7 linked regions of the Homo sapiens genome follow. The protein of the gene in region 3 interacts with the protein of the main gene of each other region in a biochemical or structural test. Each region holds a gene or a part of one and is shown on either strand. Other genes may lie near its edges.

Region 1 (3,500 bases), on a different chromosome or scaffold from region 3:
TCTTTTGAGCACCTTAAAATGGGGGAAGGCTTGTATCTTCTCTCAACTTCTTTTCAGTAATTCTTTCATCTATATGTTTACTCATTAATTTGATCATTTATTTATTTATTCATTCAGCACTTCCTCTGTGCCAGGCAATGTGTAGTGCCAGTCCCTCCTCTGGTGGAAGAAGAGTAGCTTTACCATATGGTGACATCAGGCATATAGGCTCTCGTGGAAAAAAATTCTAGGATAGTATTTTTTTTTTTTTGAGATGGAATCTCGCTCTATTGCCCAGGCTGGAGTGCAGTGGTGCAGTCTCGGCTCACTCCAAACTCTGCCTCCCAGGTTCAAGCAATTCTCCCACCTCAGCCTCCTGAGTAGATGGGATTACAGGCACACGCCATCACGCCCAGCTAATTTCTATATTTTTAGTAGAGATGGGGTTTCACCACGTGGCCAGACTGGTCTCAAACTTTTTTTTTTTTTTTTTTGAGACGGAGTCTCGCTCTGTCATCCAGGCTGGAGCGCAGTGGCACGATCTCAGCTCACTGCAACCTCTACCTCCCGGGTTCAAGCAATTCTCAGCCTCAGCCTCCCGAGTAGCTGGGATTACAGGCCCCCGGCACCATGCCTGGCTAATTTTTTTTCTTCTTAGTAGAGATGGGGTTTCACCATGTTGGCCAGGCTAGTCTTGAACTCCTGACCTCGTGATCCACCTGCCTTGGCCTCCCAAAGTGCTGTGATTACAGGCGTAAGCCACCGCGCCTGGCCTCAAACTCTTGACTTCAAGGGATCGGCCTGACTTGGCTTCCCAAAGTGCTGGGATTACAAGCATGAGCCACTGCACGGGGCCTAGGATGGTATATTGAGACCAGGGGCCCAGGAAAGCCAAGAGAAGCCTCAAGGACGTGAGAGTGTTTTCTGGCTCTGGGAAGTATGGATCATTTCAGCTCAGTGACTTAGTTCCCACCCCCTTCCCCCCACTGCCTTTTGTGGGAGGGAAGTAGGGCATGATAAGATGAAATGTCATAGATTGATTGATCACTGTTGGCCTCTGGGGCTATGACAAGTCATGGATGGAAACACTAGATCTTTAATCTGTCCTTGGCTTGGCTGCATGACAGTCTTTCTTCAAGTTGGATCACACTTTGGAAGCAGAGTTCATCAATAGGGAGGCATGAGTCCCTTCAAGATGGTATACGGTGCTTATTTGAAACTTGGACACTAAAGTCTGTGGGTCTTAGGAGGGTTCCTTCTATTCTAGTGGTCAATTTCCATGGAACTTCATCACCTTTGCTCAGGGCTCTGGGGTGAGTTAACCCAAGTCTTCACTCTTTGAAAGAAATTGTAGATTTAAAAACTCTGAAGACACATAATACTGCCTTCTCTGGGCCCTTCAGTCATTTTTGTATACATTGGTACTGGTCTCAAAGTACTTCCATATCACTCATGTCTCTGTCCCCAGGTAAGATCTTAAATGTAACCCTTCCTACAAGAAGAACAGAACAGAACACTGCTTCCAAACCACACATGTTCCTTTGGTCCTCCCCTCTACACAAACGCCATGTGTTGGGAAAGCAGGGTGAGACTGAATCTCTCTGGAGAAAAGAGAGATTCAGCACCAAGCTTTTGATCAAAAGCATAATCCCCCCCTAAAAAAAGTGCCTATTGGAGCAAAATCAGGAAAACCAAAGGCAGAGAACAGATAAAACCAAAAGGCCTTTTGTAGCCTGAGGAGAGAGCATGGAAAGGGCAGGAGGGGAACAGCCTCACCCATTTTGCCTTGGGGATGGTGAAGGTGGGCATTGGGGGATTCCAACTTCAAAGCATGGATGACTTCTAAGTCCTTTTCAGCCCTGAGCTCTTAGATTCTGAGCCTGTTTAATCCCTTGCTGATAGATTCACTCTTCCTTTTTCACCCCTACCACCAGTATCCCAGAGCCTCCATGAGCAGCTGGCCCCAGTAGATGCCACAAAAGTGTTTGTTACGAGAAGGACACCGTCCTGATTCTCTTCTCTGTCCAGAATCACCAAGAGGACTTTTCCCATTCCAGCAAGAAAACGTCTGTGTGTTGATCTAGAGGCGTTTAGAGACTTTAGGTGGCAACCTAGTCTCTCTTTTTCCCTTTATCCTTCCTACCCTTCATTCTTCTTTTATCCTTTTATTCATCAGAACACAAGAGTTGAGCATTTATGCTGTCCCAGGTACTGTGCTTGAAGGAGTTAACAACTGAGGTGGCTATTAGTCAGAGACTGACCAGCATGTGCTCACCACCCATGTTAACTAGGCAGCCCACCAAACCCACCACCATTTTTTTTTGACTTCTATAGGTATTTAAGTTTGACACCATATCTGAGAAAACATCTGATCAGATCCACTTCTTCTTTGCCAAACTGAACTGCCGACTCTATCGAAAAGCCAACAAATCCTCCAAGTTAGTATCAGCCAATCGCCTTTTTGGAGACAAATCCCTTACCTTCAATGAGACCTACCAGGACATCAGTGAGTTGGTATATGGAGCCAAGCTCCAGCCCCTGGACTTCAAGGTGAGTTGCAGATGTTACCCCTGACCTCCGAGTTCTTCCTCTCCACTCAGAGATTGAGGAGGTGGAGAAACAGCATCCAAATTCACACTGCTTTGCTGCTGAAGACTGCTGGAGGGCTGACTAAAAGTTAGAACCCCTGCAATAGTTATTCTTACTTGAAACCTGAGAAATCAAAGGTATCCATGCTTGGATTGTAGTGACTGCCCAGAAAACATGAATTAATAATCAATTCTTCATTCCATCCACCAACTTCAAATATATACCAAAGGGTGTTTTGAAGATGCCAGTTCTACAAGATATCTTACTTAATTTGAACTGTTATCATGGTCAAATAAAGTTGGTACATGATGCATGTTACATTCTCCTCTTGGAGATTCATGAAGCACATGGGCCTATGAAGGTTCTGAGAAACTCTGCAACAAAGAAATCTGTTGGCTTTATTCAATCGGCATTCCTCAAATGTATTTGACTGCATGGGCATTTCTCTCCTCCATATAACCTGCCAACCCCATATAACCTGCCAACCCCATATAACCTGCAATCATTCATTGCTTCCCCTGGCACATGCCTTGGAAATTCTACTTTTGTGAGTTAAGGTTTTCCAAAGTCAGAGAAAATAATATTTTATCTTCTTTTTCCCAGACTATTTTCGCCTTCCTTCTTTTCATTTATTTCTTCCTATTTCTTTTTGTTCTTTTTCTTCTGATAATATTTATTAACTACAGGAAAGATTCATGGAACTATATTAGATATGTGAGGCTTCCCCAATTTGGGTTAGAGCAATGGCTTCTTAATCAAATGGTGGGAAAGGACAGAGGGATGGTGAGAAAAATAAAATGCTGCCTGGGAAAATGGAGAAGCCAATTGAATAGCACAGGTGAGTAGGTTTATTTTCTGTTCTCCTCAGGAAAATGCAGAGCAATCCAGAGCGGCCATCAACAAATGGGTGTCCAATAAGACCGAAGGCCGAA
Region 2 (3,500 bases), about 110 Mb from region 3:
AGCAAGGTTTGAAAAACCACCTCATGATTACTACATTTACAATATGAGGAATGGAAGTCCAAACCCCAGCCTTATGCAATAAACCCATGTAACAAACCTGCACATGGACCCCTTGAATCTAAAATAAAATAAAAATGTAAAAAAGAAATTAATAATGGCTAAAAAGTTATGTTCAGCATTTTATTTATACAGTTACATTCTGGAAAGAAATGTTATTTTAAAATTAGGTATCTAGAAAATAGTGTAACTTTAATTCTTAATTGCTCATTATTTGTCCACAGTTTTCAAGAATTCTAATATAGCTATCTTTTTAGGTAAGATAGAAGAATAAATGAAGCGATCTTCTGAAGTACTTTTAACTTTCTAATTTTATAAAATAAAGTTTCCTTTCCTTCTCTGACTCCCAGAGGAAATACTGTAATAATAGTACCTCCAACACTGAGAATTCAAACAAAGAAGGCAGGGCTTGGAGAGTGCCTTAGTTAAACTCCTGTTGACCAATTGGGCTATTCCTGATCCATCAGTGTTGACAATGTATGGTCCTGGTAATAGTGATGTCATTCACCCCTTATGAGAATTCAGTTGATGATGGAGTTTTTTCTTCTCTGGCGTATGCATTAAAACACTACAAACTTGTTTTCTAGTTAACTAATTCAGACCTCAAGGGAAAAACAAAGTTATTGAGGTTATTTGACATGGAAAATAGAAGTCTGTGAGAGAAACAATATAATTTTGCTTGATTTTAATGTATAAGGATAGGGATTCCAACATTTAATTCAACTGAAAGAGTAAATAAATGACTAAAGACAGAACAACGTAAGTGGCTACATTAAAGTCATGGAACTTTTCTGATAGAACACATTATTGAAGAACATAATCTTCCCAAGAGATATGTATTAGTTTGTTCTCACACTGCTAATAAAGAGATACCTGAGACTACGTAACTTATAAAGGAAAGAGGTTTAATGGACTTACAGTTTCACTTGGCTGGGGAGGCCTCACAATCATGACGGAAGACAAAGAAGCGAAGGCACATCTTACATGACAGCAGGCAAGACAGCTTGTGCAGGTGAATTCCCATTTATAAAACCATCAGATCTCACGAGATTTATTCACTACCACGAGAACAGTATGGGGGAACCCACCCCCATGATTCAATTATCTCCACCTGGCCCCACCCTTAACACGTGGGGATTATTACAATTCAAGGTAAGATTTGGATGGGGACACAGCCAAACCATATCAAGATGATTAAGAAGAAAATATATAACCATTTGACCTGGGTGTTTTCTGAATACTGCTAAAAGCAAAGGATAGAATTAGATAGTCTCTCCTACAAAAGGATTCAACAAAAACTGTTCAGAAATCAAGTACTGTATTAACATTGGAAACAATAATTATAACTATATTTACACTAAATACTAAATACAATAAACACAATAATCTTATGCACCTACTTAAGATTATATGTGAACAATATAATCTATTTTCTGCTGCAGCTAAATGTGACTTTTTAAAACTTCAATTTTTCTATTGGTAAGTACTTACAAGATTTAAGTTGTTTTAACATATAATAAAATTATTTATAAATATTAATCTTCAAAAGGTGAGGTTGATAGACTATATTTTGTTTTTCAAATATAGTTTGTGAAACTGAAATTTATCTTAGCAACTCTATGTGATTTGTAATTGTGTTAACACATCCACAGTAATTTTTAGAAATGAAAATCAGCTGGAGGTTATTCATACAGATTTATAGTCAATAGGTTAGGTTTGTACCATGGCTTAATTCTCTAAATACCACGGATGATATTCTGATGGTGTCAATGGGCTAAGAAATGTTTTCACATAATTAGGAAAAGCATTTTCACTATTCAGTATAATTTACAAATATCAATGGGGAGGGTACTTGAATCCTTTTTACTACTGCAAATTTCAAAAGGTGTAAATAAAAATCAAAACCATGACTACACATAAGACAACCATTACCTTACAATATTAAAATTCAATTCATAGTTGTGACTTGAATAGTGCTGATATACAACACAGACAGATCATTTTCAGAGTAACTTGGTGTGGAGGGAATTTTAGAATTTCCTACGACAGGTTTGTTTAATTGGTCTCTGTCCCTGAGCAATGCAGTATAACAGTTAAATTTAGCAAATTCCTTGTTTTCATCTTTTTATCATAAGATCTTTAAACAGCAGGATGGCATGATTAAGGCTTCAAAACCAGTTGTTATTTTTATTTAACAGATAATAACACTACCATGCTAGTTAACCTAGTAAAGCTATTGAAGCAGCAGAATGGACACCAGAAAAGATTTGAGAGATAATACTCTGAAAAGAGATATATTCCTTTTCGTATAGTTGTGGGATACATAGAATGCTTTAAAACAGAGGAATGACCGAAATTTGATGTTGCATAATGTATTTTCTTAGAAGAAGAGAATTATATAAACTTCAATTTCATCTTCTATTCATAGGCATAAAGAGATAATAAGGTGAATTGTGTGCAATCAACTCAGATATTTAGTCCAAAAGAACCATCTTCAGAAGAACTACCTTAAGAAAAACATGTCCTCAGTTTCCAATTTATGAACAGGTGATGTTCCAAAGCTTTTTTTGTGTGTGACCCAGAAGTTGCTAAAATTTGGAAATCATTTACCCATAGAAGCAATGCTATAAATACTCGTCTCCCTGGCTAGTCCCCCAAGACTTATTGAACCATAACATGATTAATTTTGAAACTATTTGTTTTAGCCTGGGTCCTGGTAGCAGGAATGATGAGGGAAAACAGCATTTCTCCGTTAATCTTGGGCACAGTACTAGCCATACACAAGATTGGAAAATGTGGAATTTATCACCAATGTCATTAATACTACCACTTTGAGTATCTACAAAATGTCAGCAACTGGAATAGATGCTTGTATGTGTTAGCTAATGTATTCCTCATAGCAACTCTGCCAAGTAGAAATTATTATCCCTATTTTACACTTGAATAAAATAGATACAAAATATAATTTATCCAAGTCAAGCAGATAGTAATTAGTTAGAATTAAAGCCTCAAGGTCTTGCCTTACTTTAAAGCCCTTGCTGTTTCCATTATGCTTCAATGTTTTTGGAATTCTCCATCCTCCATATACACATGTACTTCAGACCCCATGAGTCTCATACTACTATGGAACCCTATCACAACGTACTTAAATCTACCTTGTATTCTGTAGTGCTCTCTGCTCTAAAATCAGACATTTCCATTTTCTCAATCCAAACTCAAAGTGCCTCTGTGCAACTGACCTCAATGGGTATAAGATTGAAATAGCTCCTGCCACCCTCGAGGGGTCTCCATTTAAGAAGGAAAATCTCACACATGTGTGTGCATGTGTACATACATATATAAGCATACAACACACACACACATATATATATACACAAACACATATATGTAAATTTTAGGCAAGGTTACAAAATGAGGTGTCAGATTATAGAGGATTTTTTAAG
Region 3 (3,500 bases):
GTTCCCTGCAGACCAGGAGACCTGGACCTGGACATGGAGCAGCTCCCATGGCACACTTGGTTCACAGGTGAGGGTCCCCTGCTTCCTCAGGAAGACAGACCTCTTCACAAATGAGAACTCACCTGTGAGCATCTCCAAGCCCAAGGCAGCAGGGAGAATAGGGCCCAGCATCTAGACTGAGACCCTCATGAGGCTCAGGCACCTGCCCAGCCCTGGCTTCCCCAGATGAGAAGGATCAGCCCACCTTGAAATGCTGCTGCTGTACAAAGACCCCACCCAGTAGGAGAGCTTCCCCCAAAATGCTGCAGTGTTGGAGACCCTGCCCAGCAGGTGCGCTGTCAGGCTCCGCTCTCACCTCTTTACTCGTATTTGCACATTTAAGCCCCAACAACCCTGTGAGGCCAGATGTATTTGGGAACTGCAGGTATTTCGATGACAAAGGCACACGTGGTGCATGGTGTGGATCATGGCATGCCCACACGGGTCTAGGGCAGAACCCCATAATTAAACCCACTCCTGTTCCTCAGAGGAACATGTGACTATTCAATGTAACAGAGAAAAATCAGGACTTTTAACTAGCCTCGACAATTTAGGTTTTGCCCCTAAATACGTTCAGCCTGAGTCAGTTTTCGCTAGTGAATGGGTTTTGCTTGGCATTCAGATTTGTAAGTCAGAGTCCAGATTATACCAGGTCCAGATTATAACCTTCTCTGTGTTCTCGGTGAGAAACCAGGTGCTGGAGGCGTTAATCCATTTGCCCACTTCCACTCTGGCTAATGGCTGGCAGAGCCAGGATTCACCCCCAGATCTCCTGGGCCAGAGCCTGCTGTCCTGCCTGGGTGATGCGGCTGTGTCTGCCCATCGTCCTTGCAGGCCCTGCTTGGCCCTGCAGAATGACTGAGCAGCCAGCCTGTCCTTGGACGGGTCCCCACCCCAGAAGACTGGATGAGAACCAATGTGGCCAGCATGGTCTAGGAGGCGAGCGAGCGAGATCAGCTGGGGCAGGCCTTCAGTAGGCACAGGAATTAACCAGGACACACCCAGGCGGAGGCCACACCAGAATCCTGGGGTAGGGATTCCCTGGCAAGGGCTCTGTCCACACCCCTGCAATGTCAGGCAGCCTGGGCACCACTGCCCCGGGACAGCTGGACCAAAGAGGGGTGGCAGTGAGCCAAGCCTAGCTTGTCCAGATGGACAAAGCACTCCTAAGGTGGGCAAAGATGCCCCAGGTCCCAGGGGGCCCCACACTCTCCCTGAAGCTGCTCTGGGAGCTCCTGGCACAGAACTCCCACACCTCTTCAGTGTTGGTGTTGGAAAGCTGACCGGTCGGTGAGGGAGGTGGCGAGCTGCAGTTGCCTGCCAAGGGCCTGGTGGCCTTTGGAATCCACAAAGCCCTCCCTCTGCTCAGACCCTGCCTGTGCACACGAGGGGACTGTTGTGGAAGGCCACGCACAAAGTACTAGTTAATATTTAACAAGCTTGCTCACATGCACATCTCATCCTATCCTTGCATTGGTCCCACGCAGCGAGATCCCACTGGACAGATGGGGAAAATGAGCTGGAGAGAAGCTCATACGGACAGCGGCACTGGGGACTTTCTAACTTGCGTGCTGCTCCTCCCGAACGCCCTGGCTGGTGTGCACGGCTCTCTCATTCCTCTCCCTGCCAAGACGGACCCACCTGGAAGGTAAGCTGCCCGACAGACCCTGTGGAAGGTCCTCAGCCCCTCCCAGTGGAGCCCCCTCCTCTCCACACGGCCTGGCTGGCGTGCACGGCTCTGAAGTGCTCGTTCCTCCTCAGGATCGGGCACTGTGCGTGTGTGTCTCTTCCTGGGGCTGTCAGGTCCACAGAGGCAGCAGATCTCGTTGAGGCTGAACTCATCCTCAACTCCCCACCACCCAGAAAGGGGGTCTGACATGCAGGAGGTGCCAGTAAAATCTGCTGAATGGACAAACATGTTGATCAATGCATCGGATATTTCCTTAATGGCCATGCTCACTCTCAGGGGCAGAAGGGACGTTCTGGCTGTGGCTGTCTGCAGGACTGTTCCCCAGCACAGCTGAAAGCCCTCAGACCGCTGCAGGGGCAGGAGAAAGGCAGCGCTTTCACGGAGGGGGGCCTGGAGGGGGGCAGGGGTTCAGGTTACTCCCAGGCAGCATGGAGGGAAGAGGACTCCCAGCTTGTCCAGCTGATCTCTGTTATGAGGTGAGCTGATCAAGGGGTGGGGAGAGAGCTGCAAGTTCTGTCTCCCCATGACCAGGTGAGTGCCCAGCAAACAACTCAGCACCCGGCAGAGAGAGCCAGAAACAGCCCCGAAGAGCTCAGGAGAACCTACCTGCTGGCCTGAAAGGGGACACCTAAGTCCTGTGTCAGCAACTGGACAGAACCCCAGGCTGCTGGGACCCTTTCAGCACCAAGGTTGCTTCTGAGACACACATGAAGCTAATGCCTGGGACTGCTGGCCTCATCACACAGCGCAAAGAAAGCCCTGCCTTCAGGCTGTCATGGCCTCTGCACCTGCCCACAGCTGTGTGCACCCAGGCCCACTCCCTGCAATCCCCGGGGAGCAGCTGCTCCCACTAAAGGGCCTCAGCCCCGCCCTCACTACCTCTCCAAGCACTGGTGACAAATGGGACCTTCACAAACAATCGCCTACAAGCTGAGAACAATGGCACCAAACCTCCACGCTCAGAAGCTGCAGTGGCATATTTTCCTGAAATCAGCAACTGGATGCCCTTTTTTGTCCAATTCAGCAGATCCCAAAGTACCTGGAGATGTTGCCTTCAAACTCCTCCATCTGGGAGGCCCAGGCCTCCGTCCTGAGCCCTGCCTATGTCTCCTCAGTATGAAACTGCACAGCGCCTTGCTGAGGTCTGACGAAGGACGGCTTCAAAACCACAAGAAGCAGGCTCATGGCTGTCTCCCCACCCAGCCAGGGTCGTGTGTAGAAAAGCAGGAGAGTTCCATGCACACGCTTCCGGTGGAGGGGTCACCGCCGCCAGAGATACCCCTCTATTCCTCTACCCCAGGAGGGAAGGACTCTGTCATCCAGTTGGCACCCCCGGGACCACCCAGGTGAGGACGCAGAGCGCAGTGGACCGGCTGTCCAGGCGTCTCCCCGCTCATCGTGCGGCAGATCAGGAGCACATCCAGTGTGAGAGCACACGAGACGCGAGCCCTCTGTCCCTCCTCGCTGCCCGTGCAGATTGCTGCAGGAGGTGACGCTGCCGTAATGAGCAACGGCCTCCCAGACCTCTCTAACACATAGCCTGCCCCAGCAGCCCTGATGCCACACAGCCGGCACACAGACGGCCCTGAGTGCACCCAAGGACACCTACCCACGCTGGTGATCCTCTGGGAGCTGAGGTCGTGCAGCAGGGCCTCGATGGCCGGGTTGTGTCTGGAGTACAGCTCGTACCGGTTGATACCAATGTGGAACTTGAGCCAGTTGGGATAGGAGTCCACGGCCGCCTCCCCGGGGGAGAGGAATTCTGCACCTT
Region 4 (3,520 bases), on a different chromosome or scaffold from region 3:
TAGACAAATAACAACCCTAAACAGCCCATATCTTTAAATCAATGTATATTTTCTAATAAGGGAGTTGTCAAAACAAAATTTCTAATTTTTCAAATTGCTTTTAATGTGACTAAAACATGAAACTGTTTATAGTTTATTGGTCTCACTGTTTAAAGTAAAGGGTCTGGCTAAAGGTTTTAATAAACAAAATTATATAACCTCAACTCCAACCATCTCCATCTCATTCATCTCTCTCTTTCTCTCTCTCTCTCTCACACACACACACACACACACATACACACACACATACACACACCACATCGCTGCAATCAAAGAAAAATAGAGTATACTAAAACTGGCTTGGCAAACTTCTAATTAACGATCAAAACTCCTTGGAGCTAAGGTGCCATTTTCCCAATAGGCTGCTATTTTTAAAATATTTTTCTTTGAAAACAACAGCATGATTAATCTCACCATTTCCACTTAAATTACTTATATGAAAACAGCAGTGCACTATGGGCAATTATTAAAAACACTTTATTATGTATAATTTGTACATGCTTCAATTTGTGTCACTTAGGGTGATTTATTTTCCAGGTTGTAATGACATCTACCGAGATTAGCTAGATCTAATTTTCATTCTGCCATGCCACATACAAAAATACAATTTTCAAACAAAGCTTCCCTTCTTTACACAAAGGTACACAAGAGTTTGTCAGACAAATAAAATAAGAATACTTCACACACGTATCAACACCATACAAGGCATTATTCTTCACACAGTAACATCTAATGTGTTCTTTTATTTTTGAAACAGCAGGAAAAGAGCCCTTTCCCTTCAGAGGAAAATAAAAACTTTATCTGTTGCTTAAGCCAAACTCCAGGGAGGAAGGTGTGGTCCTCTGGGGAAAGTAGAGGGATGGGGATGTATGGAGGAGAATGGACGCCCCTTCATAAGCACTTCAGGAGGAAGGAATTGCAGGAGGTTCCTCGGGGACAGTCACACAGCTTCCCGATCCTTGCCCCTTTCCTCACTGCACACTGCTCACCGGCGTCACACTGAAACAACAAAATGTGTGGTCATCGAGTATGAACAAACCCAGGTTCCCAACAGGCAAGTCTCACAGTCAACGCAATTTCTGTCTCTTGAAAGGGGCAATTGGACCCCATCACCATCACAAGAGGTCTACGTACAGTCAGATCTGAAACAGGGAGCCTTGTGCTTATAACCTCAGTGAGAGTACATTTTTTAAAGAAACTTACATTATTAGTTTTATCCTAGTTTCTTCCACCTTTAAGTGGCGAGGGTTGGGGGGCGTGGGAAGGGGAGCATCACATTTCCTGGCTCCTTTTCTTGCCCTCTCAGAGGGGAAAAAAATCAGACCTTTTTCCTGAGCAACAAACAATAGACTTACACTTTCTTACAACCCCTGTTCCTGCTTTCCCATTTCCTCACCCGGGAAGGAAGAAGGAGCCCACAGAATCCTGCAAGCCCATTACCTAAGTTATTTAGCCACATCCTACGGAGAAGACTGTGTGTACGATTCAAGGCGGTGTACTTTCTCTTGGAAAAACACGGGAAGGGAGTGACCACAAACCTTACCATGGGGACTTGGCCATACTTCTTCTCATAGATGGGAACACGTTTACTCTTGAGCTTCTTCAAGACTTCTTGCAGCGCTTCGATCTGCAACACACCGCTTCGGAGCCTGAAGTTGCCGCCTTGGCTGCGAGCCCAGCCCAGGTGCGCACTTCCAGCCCTAGTTATAAGGAGCCCCGGACCCACACGCACTCTGCGGTGGGACTCCGCGGACACAGGGAATGGTCGAGGGGTGGAAACTTAGCGGACGCTGTCCCAGGTACTGACCGCGGGTCTCTGAGCCGCTGGGGTCCCTGTTGCTCAGAGGGGCCGGGATGAGGGATTCGCTCAACAGACTGCCAGGAGCCCGTGAGCTCGAGACGCTCTTCGGATGGCAGTGGGTGCCTGGGCGTTGCGCTCAGCTCCCCGCGCCCTGACTCTGGGAATAGGAGTGGGGGTGGGGGGAGGAGGGAGGCGTGCAAGAGAAGAGACAAGGCGACAGCTCAAGGGGGTCGAGAGCGAGGGGAATACCGACCAGCTCCTTCTCGTGGGAGGCATCATCCACGGCAGAGTAGATGTCCAGGGCTCGGGGCTGGAGCTCGGCGTCCTCCTGGGCACGGGTACCCAACAGAGGTAGCATCAGCAGCAGGGCGGCGCCCAGGAGGGGCAGCAGCCTCACGCGGGAGCTCTCCATCGTTCTGAAACTCGTCGTTGCTGGGGCACCACGCGCTCCCACCTTTTATAGTGAGCCCGAGCCCCCGTGCAGGAAAGAGGGAGGAGGCGAAGAAGGAAGGGGGTGTGGAGGAGGGCCCGGGTCAACCGTCTGTAGGCAGCGCTCCGCCGGCGCTTGACGTCAATGCCCGCCGGGTTCCAGGCGCCTGGGAACGAGGCTCTGCGCACAGATGGGCTAGAGCGCAGAGAACAGGACCCTGCGCCCCCAAAGGCTGTCAGTCTCACGGCAAGGGATGCTCCCCGAGGGGCCTGAGCTGAAGCCGAGGGGCTAGAGGTGAGGGACGGGAAGCGGGAGGGGCCTAGGAAATGGAAAATGCCTTCGGGTCAATGCACAGGCAGGAGAGTCGTTTCCCAACACCTAGCAGTGGTGACAGCTGCAACATCCACCTCGCCAGCCCTGCCTTGCCTCGCACCCCAACCCCAAGTGTGGCGGTGAGAAGGGGGTGTTGCCTCCAGACAGCCACATTTGCTGAGCACCTTACTCTGTGGGGTAGGGGAAGCAAACATACTATACAAAAGAAAGAGAAATAGTGGCCCTCCACGTGATGGGTTCTATGATGGAATCTGTGTGACAATAGTTAAAAGAAGAGAGGGAAAACAGACAAACCCGGATTCAGCAGTGGTGTTGGAAGTGCAGAGAGCCAGGCTCTGGTTCCCATCCTGGCTACACCACGTAAAAGTTGTATGACTTTGAACAAAATGAAGAACCTCTCCAAGCCTCAGCTTTCTCTTTTGTAGATCTAGGATTAAAAAGATATACCTCACAAAGTCATCAGTAGGATGAAATGAGAGATTAAGTATGTCAAACTCCTGGTTCTTAGCTAAGCTTCCCTGTCCCTCCTTTTTGAACTTTGAGGCTGCCCAGGCAAATTTAACCATCCCCAGAACCTCCCCCCACCCACCACCAACCCTTGGTATCCAAGAAGCCTGTCTAGAAAGAGAGTAAAAGAGTGAAAAGAAAGACAGCTCCATGATTATGAAAATATCTCCAGAGATCAGAAGTCAATGGTGAACCAGCTCCCCAACAACTTGGGAGAACAATGTGGCTTTTTTAAAAGTTGAGATCCTTACAGCCTGAATGCACAGGAAAATTCCTGTAGGAAAAGCAATGCTTTCCCGCTTAGACCTGCTTGCTCACCTGGCTTCCTTCACCACACCATCTTTCCCTCAACTGTTCCTAAATTCATCCACTCTTCTCCATCCCCATTACTACAACCCAGTCCTAGACAG
Region 5 (4,004 bases), on a different chromosome or scaffold from region 3:
AATCTCAGCTCACTGCAATCTCCACCTCCCGGGTTCCAGCAATTCTCCTGCCTCAGCTTCCCGAGCAACTAGGATTACAGGCATGTGCCACTACGCCCGGCTAATTTTGTATTTTTAGTGGAGATGGGGTTTCTCCATGTTGGTCAGGCTGGTCTCGAACTCCCGACCTCAGGTGATCCACCCATCTCAGCCTCCCAAAGTGCTGGGATTACAGGTGTGAGCCACCGTGCCTGGCCAATTTTTACTGGAGTAAGGATGTTGATACCATCAAGCCTCACACTTCTGCTGAGATTATCAACTGTAGTTTTCCAATGTTGGTCTACAGGTGGGGACCATTCTGTAATATAGTTTCCCCACTCTGTGTTGATGTGAGGAAAATAAGAATAATAAAGTTTTATTGCTGGCTTTGAGGGAGAAGGGTTCTATGACCCGCCTTGGGGAAGAGAAATTCTAGCTTCTGTGGCCTGCCTTGAGAGAAGTGGAGCAGGAGAAAGACGGGCAGGAGAAAGCAAGAAAGAGACTTTGCTTTTGCAGCCTTTTTAATGTCTTTCAGTTCAAAGTACTCGGCATGCCAAAGAGCCATATTTGGGGCTATCTTTTTCTGTGCCAAACCAACAACACCAAACCAGAAAGAAGCAAGCATAGGGAATCCAGGGCTTCACTCAACCCATCCCTTCCTATGCTTTTCCTCTATCTCCACCCTGGGAGCAATTTTCTTTTACAGAACTAATGCAACTGAGCAGAGAAAGGCTGGCCTGTCCAGAGAGCAGATAGGACGCCCATATTTTATTTTCAGTTGTGCCAATGTCCTGCATGGGACTCCTGGAACTCACTGGATGCCCCTGTGCATGAGCTTCTTAGGCATGTAATAGAATTAACAGCAGTCTGCTTCTATGCAGGTAGGTATCCTGCAAAGAAACTTTGTATGAAATGTGTCTGCACATTGTACTCATTCTTGCATTGTTTACCCATGTAGTGACCTTCAAAAATGGCTTTGCAAAAGTCACAGGGGAATAACCGAGTTAGTAGGCACTTGTTTCCCCTCCTTCATCAGATTCTGCTCTGATTTGCTACATAAAGTTGTATAATCACCTGGAAATATGCACTGTGCTGCCACGTGATTTTCAAATGCAAATGAGCAGGTTAACAACCCCAGTGTTGCAATGTTCTAGCTGTAAATATGTTTGGATAACCCAGCAGAGCCATTTAACCTTTGGGAACAAGGCAACTAGCGTCTGGCAGCAGGAATCCAACCAGTGCCCTGAGTTCTGAGGCAGAGAGGAGGACAGAAGAAACAAGAGGCTGGAGATTGTCAAATTCAGTATCCCAGTTGGCTCTTGATTCTTGGTGAAACCATCCCTCAGCTCCTAGAGGGAGATTGTTAGATCATGAAACTAATTACCATCCTTTTCCTCTGCTCCAGGCTGCTACTAAGTTTAACCCAGGAATCACAGTCCGAGGAAATTGACTGCAATGACAAGGATTTATTTAAAGCTGTGGATGCTGCTCTGAAGAAATATAACAGTCAAAACCAAAGTAACAACCAGTTTGTATTGTACCGCATAACTGAAGCCACTAAGACGGTGAGTGAATTGTGTTTAACCTTGAAGTCACTTGGGATTTGTACTATCACTAGGAGTCCAGGCCTCACACACACACACACATACCACCACCAGCACCCACCACCACCACCCACCACCCACCACCATCACCCACCACCACCACCACAACCACCACCACCACCCACCACCACCACCACCATCCACCACCACCCACCACCCACCACCACCCACCACCATCACCCACCACCCACCACCCACCACCACCCACCATCATCACCCACCACCACCCACCACCATCACCCACCACCCACCACCACTCGCCACCATCACCCACCACCATCACCCACCACCCACCACCCACCACCACCAACCACCACCATCCACCACCACCAACCACCACCCACCACCACTACCACCCCTCACCACCCACCACCACCGCCACCCACCACCCACCACCATCACCCACCACCACCACCATCCACCACCACCACCCAACCACCACCACCCACCACCCACCACCATCACCCACCACCCACCACCACCCACCACCCACCACCCACCACCATCACCCACCACCTACCACCCACCACCCACCACCACCACCACCCACCACCACCCACCACCCACCACCACCACCACCCACCACCACCCACCACCACTACCACCCCTCACCACCCACCACCACCGCCACCCACCACCCACCACCATCACGCACTACCAAATATGTGATCATCAAAGGTAGAAGCTTACAACTTGTGGAAAGACAGATACCACTCTCTGGCCTGGGGTGGGAGGACAGAGTATGACTCGTCCTCAGGCAGGTTGGCTTCCTGGATGATCAGAGAAGTAGAATCTAGGGTGAAATGAAACAAAAGTAGATGGAGAAATCTCAACAGGACCAAGTAGAGAGGGAGAATTTAGGAATTTAGTTAGACTGCAGCAAAAGAATTCACTGGGTCTCTGGCCCTAGGCTAAAAACTATAGAACTCCAAACCTTTAATGGGAGGGGGTACTTCATGGGGCATGTCTAAGAGGAGTGAGGAATGAGGTTAATGTGATTCTACGGAATTAGACAGAAGTCTGTATGGCTGAATGTACTGGGTTTAACAGCAACGTTTTAGTTAGTTTTTGATATTATTGCAATGATGCACTCCAGCAGGAGACAAATCCTGGCAGGATGCATGGTTCAAAGAAATACCAATCTTTCAAGAGTATGTTTAAACAAATTTCACTATAAAAGACTATATCTCTGGGAATGTCAAGCAATTGGTTACTTTAGCAGAAAAAAAAAAACTAGCCATGTGACAACATGGGGATAAAGGAAAATAAACACAGTGGACATGTTATTTTTTCTGAAAGTAAAATCGAGCCATTTTCTTTCATAATCTAGTACAGTCATGTGAGAAATTCTGCTTCATGGTGATCTCAAGCAACAGTTTATTGGTGGTGTGGTACCCAATAGATTGTGGGTATGGTTGTAAATATACTAAAAAACATTAAATTGTATGCCTTTAGTGGGTAAATTTTATGGCATGTAAATTATATCTCAATAAAGCTGTTTAAAAAAGAAAAAGTAGGAAACAAAATAAACCAAATAAAAGTACTAAAATCACCCATAATTAATTCCACCATACAGAGATAACTGTTAACATTTGTTTAAGGTTTTCTTGTTTGCTTTTTCTAATTTGTAAAAGTCATATACGTTCATTAGGGGAAAAAGACCACTTAGAAATGTTTGCTTGGGCCGGGCGCGGTGGCTCATGCCTGTAATCCCAGCACTTTGGGAGGCCAAGGCGGGGGGATCACGAAGTCAGGAGATCGAGACCATGGTGAAACTCAGTCTCTACTAAAAAATACAAAAAAGTAGCCAGGCGTGGTGGAGGGCGCCTGTAGTCCCAGCTACTCTGGAGGCTGAGGCAGGAGAATGGCGTGAACCCGGGAGGCAGAGCTTGCAGTGAGCCGAGATCACGCCACTGCACTCCAGCCTGGGCGACAGAGCGAGACTCCATCTCAAAAAAAAAAAAAAGAAATGTTTGCTTGAAGAAGAAAGTGAAAGATAATTATAATCTCACCACTGACAGACAAACATTTTAACAGCTTGCTGTGTATCTTTCCAGACTTTTAAAAGACATAGATTTATATATAAACCAGTTTTGACAAAAATGGGCTAATACTATGCATACTGCTTTGTAACCTTTAAAAGTACATTGTGAATATATTATAAACATTCTTTCACATAAATGTTTATGATAGAAATATAAATATATTTTAAGTGAATGCTTTGCTCTCAAGTCAAAGATCAATATTCCTAACTTTACCGGAACCCACTAGAATTATTTGCTGTTGGGTCAGTTGGATGAACCCTAAGTATCTTTGGCTGCTTTTCAGGTTGGCTCTGACACGTTTTATTCCTTCAAGTACGAAATCAAGGAGGGGGATTGT
Region 6 (4,037 bases), on a different chromosome or scaffold from region 3:
ACTACCCTGCTGGTCTGGTTCTGAGGGGCTGGGGTCTCTGGCGACTGAGGACTGGGGGCCAAGCCGGGTACCAGCCACACCTGTGCCAGGAGGACGGAGAGCAGGAGACTTGGCACCACCTTCATGTGATCGGCTGCGGAGGCCAAGGAGTGCCTCCCTTCAGCTGCAAGACTTCCTGTGGAGAGGAGAGGATAGAGATGGTTTTAATGCCTCCTAAAATGTCTTTGTGGATAGTAAAAGCTTCTTCAGGGACCCTGCCTCCTTCCTGTGGCTCAAGTAGGTTAGCCCTGCCCCAGGGAGACCTAGAGCAAGTGTGGGTGACATTTGCTCACCCAAAGAGGGGACATTATTTCACAGAGCAAAACCTCCTCCAGTTCCCATTCCCTGCCAGGCCGGCAGGCAGCTCTCAGTCCTGACCCCGTTTTCATTCATCCCGTCTCCTCCCTGAGGGCCAGGGCAAGAGAGTCCACTCTGGGAGCAGGAGGCAGCACAGAAGGTGGGGGTCCAAGCAGGTGGAATCAGGGGTCCTCACACACCTTTCCTTGATCTGCTTCATTCACTGCCCTGACCATCTGGTCGTCAGGCTGCCCATCCAGATGGGTGGCCGGCCTTGCCCAGTGCCCTGTTTGGCTGGGGATTGGAGTGCCTGCATGCCCGTTAGGCAAGGAAGGGGGAAAGTATTGGAGCTTTCCTGGATTTTTTATCAAAATTCTCTTTGCACTGCACCTCTGCTACACAGTTCCTTGGAGGTCTTCCTTCCTTCCTTCCTTCCTATAGCTGCAGCTCCCGGGTAGCAGGAGGCCCCGCAATTCATACAACCCACTTCTGGGCTCCCTCCACTGTGGCTTCATAGAGCCCTCAGCCACCTGGGCTGCATGCCGGTTCTCACTGTCCTAGGCTGCAGTGTGGGAGCTACACTTCTTCACCGTTAGCTGTCCCCTTCTCTGTCGCCTTTTAGGCTCCCTCCACATCCTTGGACACAGAGCCTGGCTCCTGAATACTTCCATGTTTTCCATCCAAATACATGGCTTGGGACTGGCCTGGGCCACCTGGCTGTGTCCAAACTCAGTTCTGGTGTTCAGCCACACTGCAGGCCTGATCCCAGAGGCTGGCTGGGCAGAACCCCTGGGACACCTGCCCTCCCTCATCCTCTCTCTGGGCCCACTGCCCTGGGAGGGTCTGGGTGGGGTAGGCCACCCAGCCCAGTGAGCGCAGGGTGGATGCTGCCGGCCTCACAGTAGTTCCCATCAGCAGAGACCCTTATTCTTGACCAAGGTCACCTGCGGCAAAATGTATTGACAGGCGGTGCTGCCAGGCCTCTTCCTGATGCAGGGGCTGAGTCCTTATCTATGCCTGGGACAAAACCGCCTCCAGCGCCAGGGCCCAGCATGTTGCCCCTTGCTCGGGCTGAATGGCACCCCGGAATTCAGGGCCTCACTCTGCAGTCTGAACGGCACTACCCTCTCCCCTGTAGAAGCAGTGAAATACTTCCACTGTGTTTCCCAAAGGACACTGTTGAGGAAGCTCTTTTTGACTCTAAATGGCAAGCCTGCATTCAACAGGTCACCCAAGTATTGTAAACGTTGGGTAAATAGCTCTTTCAGTGTAAACGCAGCCCAGTTTCACGCTTTTATTGTTATGGACTGAATGTGTCCCCTGAGAATTAATAAGTTGAAGCCCGAACCACCATTGTGATGGCAATAGAGTTGGGGCGCTTGGGAGGTGATTAGGTTTAGATGAGGTCGTGAGGGCAAGGCCCCTGTGATAGCACTAGTGCTGTCATAAGAAGAGAGCAGAGTCCCCCTCCGCACCTCCTCTCCATGGGAGGACACGGTGCGAAGGTGGCCATCTGCAAGCCAAGAAGACAGCCCTACCAGAATCCGGCCACGCTGGCACCCTGACTCGGACTTTCAGCCTCCAAAACTGTGAAAAATCAATGGCTGTTGGAGCCACCCAGCCTGTGGTGTTTTGTTAGAGGAGCCTGAGCTAAAACGATTACGTGGCATCATTTAGTGCTACTTTCTACATTAAGACCACACAGAATACTCCTGAATTCAAGGTTACTTCTCCCTGTACAATGGTCAGGAAATTAGCCCAGCACGCCAACTAGATGTCACCACCTCCAAATGCTGAGTCTTACCTTCCTGTTCTTGGAGCTTGTCCTGCAGTCTGCAGTGGTAGCCCAGTAATTCCTGGGTGCTCCTGGACATATATCGCCTAAGGTCTTTGTAAAGTCTTTGCTCATCTACCCAACCCTTTGGAGTCTAGGCCAGGAGCTCAGGGGGTGCTCCTGGACTAGGACACCATCCAGCATGGTGAGGACGCACCTTCCTAGACAGAACCTGGGCAGTAAGGAATCACCAGCTCACCTGCCACTTCTCAGCCCTGGGACAGCACACATCCCTGCCTCCCCTCAGCCCTGGGAAGGGGAGACCTGCTTACTCCGGCAGTGAGTGGTGGTGGGTGAAATATCAAGCCTTTCAAGCCTCTTTCCCTTGGCCTCCTTCCTGCAGAGGAGCCCCTTGTGTCTATAATTCGCCTCTTACCCCACTCCAGCTCCCAATCTGTATGTACAGTCCCTGTGGAGTGTAGGATGGAGGTCTTTGCACTGCTCAGCCACACAGCCCTCACGTTGGAGCCCGCCCAGGGATGATACCATCCTTCCCGGTCCCTCCCTGATTAGACTCATTGAAGGTCTCCTGTAACCCACTGCCTCTTACCAGTGTGTGGCCTTGGGTCCTGGAAAAGTCCTTCATTTAGAGCAGAAACCAAAGCTTCAGCTTTGCAGCCCAGAACCTTCAGCAAATATTTGCTATTCCAAAGTATGATCCCCTGTGGGACGGTTACTGATTAACATCCTGCTTGTGATGGTGGAGTTTCTGGAAAACCAAAGACCAAGTGGGAGGCTTCCCATACTCCCCAGCTCCTCCTATAACCCGGAATATGACCCAAATCCCATCACGAGAGCTTCTGCCTTGCAACTCAAGGCTTCGCCCCAGTAAGATTCAGCTCTGTCTGGGTGGGGTGTGGGGAATTTGTCTTGAGCTGTTCTAGGTGCTGAACACCTCGAGAAAGAAGGCACTGGGGGATCCCATGGATGCTTCCTGAGTCCCCAGCCTGGTACTGGACACTATGAGGATGTGGGTTGGGGGGCACAGCAGAAATGTTCAGGACCTGTTCTCTCAGCCCCCAAGGAACTGGTCAATCCAGTGGGGGAGGCAGACAGGTAAATCACTACTTAGAGTACATAGCTCCTTTCAAGGTAAATTTCCTGCTTCACAATGTTGCTGGACTTGAGACTGAATCCTCGGGCACTCAGAGTTGAGGCTGGTGGAGACCGTTTATGGCAAAACTTTTCAGACTTCTCAGACTCTCTTTTTTAATATATATAAGTAAATATTTTGTTATGTGCCCCTTACTACTACCATTGAAGTGAAACGTATAGCTAATATAATCTACCCACAAAATTAAAAAAAAGATAATGCTGTAATGATAATATGGAGGCATAATAAAAGAGAATAATGTGTCCCTGAATATGGCAGTGCTGTGGCCTAAGGGCCTGGGCAGGTGCAGTGAGGCTGTCCAATGTGGAGCCCACGGGAGGTCGCTTGTGTGCTGCTCACTGCTGGCCGGTGAACAAGAAAACCAATGGTACTACCAGGGATAGAGCTTTTGAAATGGTAAATAATGCTTGGTAAAGTTTCAAACAAAATAAAATATAGATCTTTCCCTGATTTACACGGTCATTGTCTTCACAGAAAATGCAGTGTGTAGTAAAACCTTGGATAAATATTATATTTTTATATGAAATAAAGCAGCCCCAGGACTGACAGTCTAGGCTCAGATAATCCCACGTGAACTTGAGGTGGACATGTGAGTCCTGGGGAACCCGGCGGCCTCTTCATCATGGGAGACTGCCCTGCGTGTTCTGGTATGTCTGGCATTGCTAACCCTCAATCCTTAAATGCTAGTAGTACTCCCCCCAAACGTTTGTGAAAGGCAGAAGTGTCCCAACAAGTTTCCAGAGTGTTCCTTTT
Region 7 (3,500 bases), on a different chromosome or scaffold from region 3:
CAAGTGGTGTGTTTTCACATTAAAAATCACTTGATAGGCTGGGTGTACACAGTGGCTCATGTGTATAATCCCAGCACTTTGGGAGGCCAAGGCAGACGATCACCTGAGGTCAGGAATTTGAGGCCAGCCTGGCCAACATATCAAAACCCTGTCTCTACTAAAAATACAATTAGCTGGGCATGGTGGTGTGTGCCTGTAATCCCAGCTACTTGGGAGGCTGAGGCAGGAGAATCGCTTGAACTTGGGAGGCAGAGGTTGCTGTGAGCCAAGATTGCGCCACTCACTCTAGCCTGAGTGACAGAGCGAGATTCTGCCTCAAAAAAAAAAAAAAAAAAAGAAACAACAACAAAAAAACCCCAAAATTATCTGGGTGTGGTGGCACACACCTGTAATTCCAGCTACTTGGGAGGCTAAGGCATGAGAATTGCTTGAACCCAGGAGATGGAGGTTGCAGTGAGTTGAGATTGCGTCACTGCATGCCAGCCTGGGCGACAGAGCAAGATTTCTGTCAAAAAAAAAAAAAAATCACTTGATAAATCAGAAAAGGAAAAAACTGCATATTCTTACCTACTGGCTTAATTTAAAAATTCAACCTATTGGTTAAAATTATTATTTGCTTTTAAGACAAAATGTTTGTAATTTAACAAAGCCTTCTAATTACTTTTTTTAAAAGAAAGAAAAGGCATATGAAAATGGACAACATGCCAAATACACGAGCCCCTTGACCCTCCTAGTCAAATATTATGTTTAACATTTCCTTATTTTCATATAGGGCTTTAAATCAGAAAAGCAAATATATAGGAGCAATCGCGTCAGATTAGCATGTTTGACCAACATCAACCAGTGCAGAAACTGGGCTTCTCCAAACAGTGGTGGAGCCACACCTCTAACTCCTTCTCAGAGGAATGGCCCCAGCGGCTCAGCAGGAAGTTCAGAAGTCACTGCAATGAGCAAACAGACCTGAGCACACCCCGGCGCAGCCTGGAGTCCGGGAAAGAATCAGTCACCAAGTTTTCTGATGGCCTGGAAATATTCCACCCTGTCCCAAGAATGTCTCTAAGCCAGGGGTGAGCAAACTATGGCCCACAGGCCATATCCGGGCCTGGTTTTTTTTTTTTTAAAGTTTTACTATACACTGCCATAAATACTGCCTATGGCTGCTTTCTGGCTACAAAGTAGAACTGAAAAGTTGAGACAGAGACAGAGACTCACAGACCAACTCTGCCCATAGGGTATTGTGAGGATTAAACATTTACCATCTGACCATTTAGACAGTTTGTCAACTCTGCCTCTAACCCATTGGGATTAAATGACCAAGGTCACTGTGTTCTGCTTAAATTGCTTTAAAAACTTACTAGGAAATACACAGACTCTCTTCCTCTCACTTCCCCAAAATGAACACCATCTTTTCCCCAATGCTAGAAGCTGACAGTGTCTAAAGATTAAAACTTTTAAAATGAATGTATAGTGGTAGGTAGTAGAAACACCAAAAAGCGAGGTGGATGAGTGAAAATGAACTAGGGAACCAAATTCTTCCTGTTTTGAAATTTTCTGAAGAAAGGTTGAACCACCGTCAAGAATATATCCTGGGGCCAGCACGATGGCTCACGTCTATAATCCCAGCACTTTGGTAGGCTGAGGCAGGAGGATCACTTGAGCCCAGGAATTCGAGACCAGATTGGGCAATGTTATGCAGGGAGACCCTGTCTCTACAAAAAAATATTTAAAAAAGAATACATCTTGGGCCAGGCACGGTGGCTAATGCCTGTAATCCCAGCACTTTGGGAGGCCAAGGCAGGCGGATCACCTGAGATCGGGAGTTCAAGACCAGCCTGACCAACATGGAGAAACCCTGTCTTTACTAAAAATACAAAATTAGCCGGGCGTGGTGGTGCATGCCTGTAATCCCAGATAGTTGGGAGGCTGACGCAGGAGAATCACTAGAACCTGGGAAGCGGAGTTTTCGGTGAGCCGAGATAGTGCCATTGCTCTCCAGCCTGGGCAAAAACCCCGTCTAAAAAAAAAAAAAAGAAAAAGAAAAGAAAAGAAAAAAGAATACATCTCAGTAGGAGCTCAATTTTTCCTTGAGTCACAAACTGCCGCCCAAGGGCCCAATCCTGCCAGCCATCTATTTTTGTACACTGCCCACAAATTAAGAATAGTTTTTACATTTTTTTTCTTTTTTTTTGAGACGAAGTCTTGCTTTGTCACCCAGGCTGGAGTGCAGTGGCGCAATCTCAGCTGTCTGTAACCTCTGCCTCCTGGGTTCAAGTGATTCGAATGTCTCAGCCTCCCAGGTAGCTGGAATTACAGGCACATGCCACCACGCCCAGCTAATTTTTGTATTTTCCCTTTTTTTTTTTTTTTAAAATAGAGATGGGGTTTCACCATGTTGGCCAGGTTGGTCTCGAACTCCTGACTTGAAGTGATCCGCCCACCTCAGCCTCCCAAAGTGCTGGGATTACAGGCATGAGCCAACGTGCCTGGCCAGTTTTTACATTTTCAATGGTTGAAGAAAGTTAAAAGAATAATATTTCATGACAGAGTGCTTCAAAGGGCTGAGATAAATTCTCCACATATTCCTGGCTGCCTGGAAGATTATGCGCGCGTGGGAAAGACCCAAAAGAGCCCAGCAGGGCTGAAAACCAAGAAGAACCGAGAACCAGCTGAAACTTGCAGTGTTCCCCAACTCGCACACAGACCTACTGATAGAGGGATGGAGACTGACCTGGCAGGTGACTCCTGGTTCAGTGCTCCTTGGAGAATTTGGATGCCATGAAGTGATATTAGATGTCAGTTTAGCTACCTGTTATTTTGAGTGCTTCCTTAGCGGTACTGTTGAGGCAGTGTGGCTTAGGAAAAGAGTACTGATGTGGGTCAGGCCAAAAGGAATTTTAATCCTAGCTTTCTTACTATTTGCATGAATTTTGGTGAGTTGTATAATCCCCCTCTCTGTATCTTATTCAATCCTTGTAAAAGTCCATTGAAGTAGGCTTACTACTGACCCCATGTTCTAGGATGCAGTGATATGAGACTTTAAATATGTAAAACCTTTTGTTGTGAGGATTAAAAATTACAGCGGCAATAAAGTACACACCACATGATAACTGCTCGATAGGTTTTTTTTTTTTTTTTGGTTTGGAAATAAAAGGATATCTCATGACACATGAAAATTACATGAAACTAAAACTTCTGTATCCATAAATAAAGTTTTACTGGAACAGAACCATGCCCATTCATTTACATATTATCTGTGGCTACTGGGCTATAACAGCAGAGCTGAGTAGTTGTGACAGGGACCACAGGGTCTGCAACATCTAAAATAGTATCTGGTCCTTTTCAGAAACAGGTTGCCAACTCCTGCTGTAGTTCAATGGTCCTTAAAGTGTGGTCCCCATATTAGCAGCATCAGCATTACCTTGGAATTTGTCAGAAATGCAAATTTTGTGGCCGACCCCAGACCTACCAAGTCAGAGGTCTGTTTATTCCACTAATAAATG

The links.
Region 1: of the proteins of FAM20C (region 3) and SERPINC1, one has a biochemical effect on the other in vitro, tested with the Homo sapiens proteins (one large-scale study listed by IntAct).
Region 2: of the proteins of FAM20C (region 3) and PPP1R3A, one has a biochemical effect on the other in vitro, tested with the Homo sapiens proteins (one large-scale study listed by IntAct).
Region 4: of the proteins of FAM20C (region 3) and CARTPT, one has a biochemical effect on the other in vitro, tested with the Homo sapiens proteins (one large-scale study listed by IntAct).
Region 5: of the proteins of FAM20C (region 3) and KNG1, one has a biochemical effect on the other in vitro, tested with the Homo sapiens proteins (one large-scale study listed by IntAct).
Region 6: of the proteins of FAM20C (region 3) and SERPINA10, one has a biochemical effect on the other in vitro, tested with the Homo sapiens proteins (one large-scale study listed by IntAct).
Region 7: of the proteins of FAM20C (region 3) and GOLM1, one has a biochemical effect on the other in vitro, tested with the Homo sapiens proteins (one large-scale study listed by IntAct).

What each region holds. Positions count from the first base shown.
Region 1 is NC_000001.11:173,910,828-173,914,327, reverse strand, and holds part of SERPINC1 (antithrombin-III isoform 1 precursor), read left to right. Parts: intron 1-2,313; coding exon 2,314-2,529; intron 2,530-3,436; coding exon 3,437-3,500. UniProt on the Homo sapiens protein: Most important serine protease inhibitor in plasma that regulates the blood coagulation cascade. AT-III inhibits thrombin, matriptase-3/TMPRSS7, as well as factors IXa, Xa and XIa. Its inhibitory activity is greatly enhanced in the presence of heparin.
Region 2 is NC_000007.14:113,909,010-113,912,509, forward strand, and holds part of PPP1R3A (protein phosphatase 1 regulatory subunit 3A), read right to left. Parts: intron 1-3,500. UniProt on the Homo sapiens protein: Seems to act as a glycogen-targeting subunit for PP1. PP1 is essential for cell division, and participates in the regulation of glycogen metabolism, muscle contractility and protein synthesis.
Region 3 is NC_000007.14:195,571-199,070, reverse strand, and holds part of FAM20C (extracellular serine/threonine protein kinase FAM20C precursor), read right to left. Parts: coding exon 3,339-3,500; intron 1,939-3,338; coding exon of another isoform or gene 1,571-1,938; exon of another isoform or gene 1-1,570. UniProt on the Homo sapiens protein: Golgi serine/threonine protein kinase that phosphorylates secretory pathway proteins within Ser-x-Glu/pSer motifs and plays a key role in biomineralization of bones and teeth.
Region 4 is NC_000005.10:71,718,026-71,721,545, reverse strand, and holds CARTPT (cocaine- and amphetamine-regulated transcript protein preproprotein), read right to left. Parts: upstream 2,272-3,520; 5' UTR 2,253-2,271; coding exon 2,094-2,252; intron 1,667-2,093; coding exon 1,583-1,666; intron 1,039-1,582; coding exon 931-1,038; 3' UTR 501-930; downstream 1-500. UniProt on the Homo sapiens protein: Satiety factor closely associated with the actions of leptin and neuropeptide Y; this anorectic peptide inhibits both normal and starvation-induced feeding and completely blocks the feeding response induced by neuropeptide Y and regulated by leptin in the hypothalamus.
Region 5 is NC_000003.12:186,716,155-186,720,158, forward strand, and holds the start of KNG1 (kininogen-1 isoform 1 precursor), read left to right. Parts: upstream 1-1,204; 5' UTR 1,205-1,388; coding exon 1,389-1,583; intron 1,584-3,950; coding exon 3,951-4,004. UniProt on the Homo sapiens protein: Kininogens are inhibitors of thiol proteases.
Region 6 is NC_000014.9:94,290,469-94,294,505, forward strand, and holds the start of SERPINA10 (protein Z-dependent protease inhibitor precursor), read right to left. Parts: upstream 2,801-4,037; 5' UTR 2,721-2,800; exon of another isoform or gene 2,211-2,720; coding exon of another isoform or gene 2,141-2,210; intron 176-2,140; coding exon of another isoform or gene 126-175; coding exon 1-125. UniProt on the Homo sapiens protein: Inhibits activity of the coagulation protease factor Xa in the presence of PROZ, calcium and phospholipids. Also inhibits factor XIa in the absence of cofactors.
Region 7 is NC_000009.12:86,093,059-86,096,558, forward strand, and holds part of GOLM1 (Golgi membrane protein 1), read right to left. Parts: intron 1-3,500.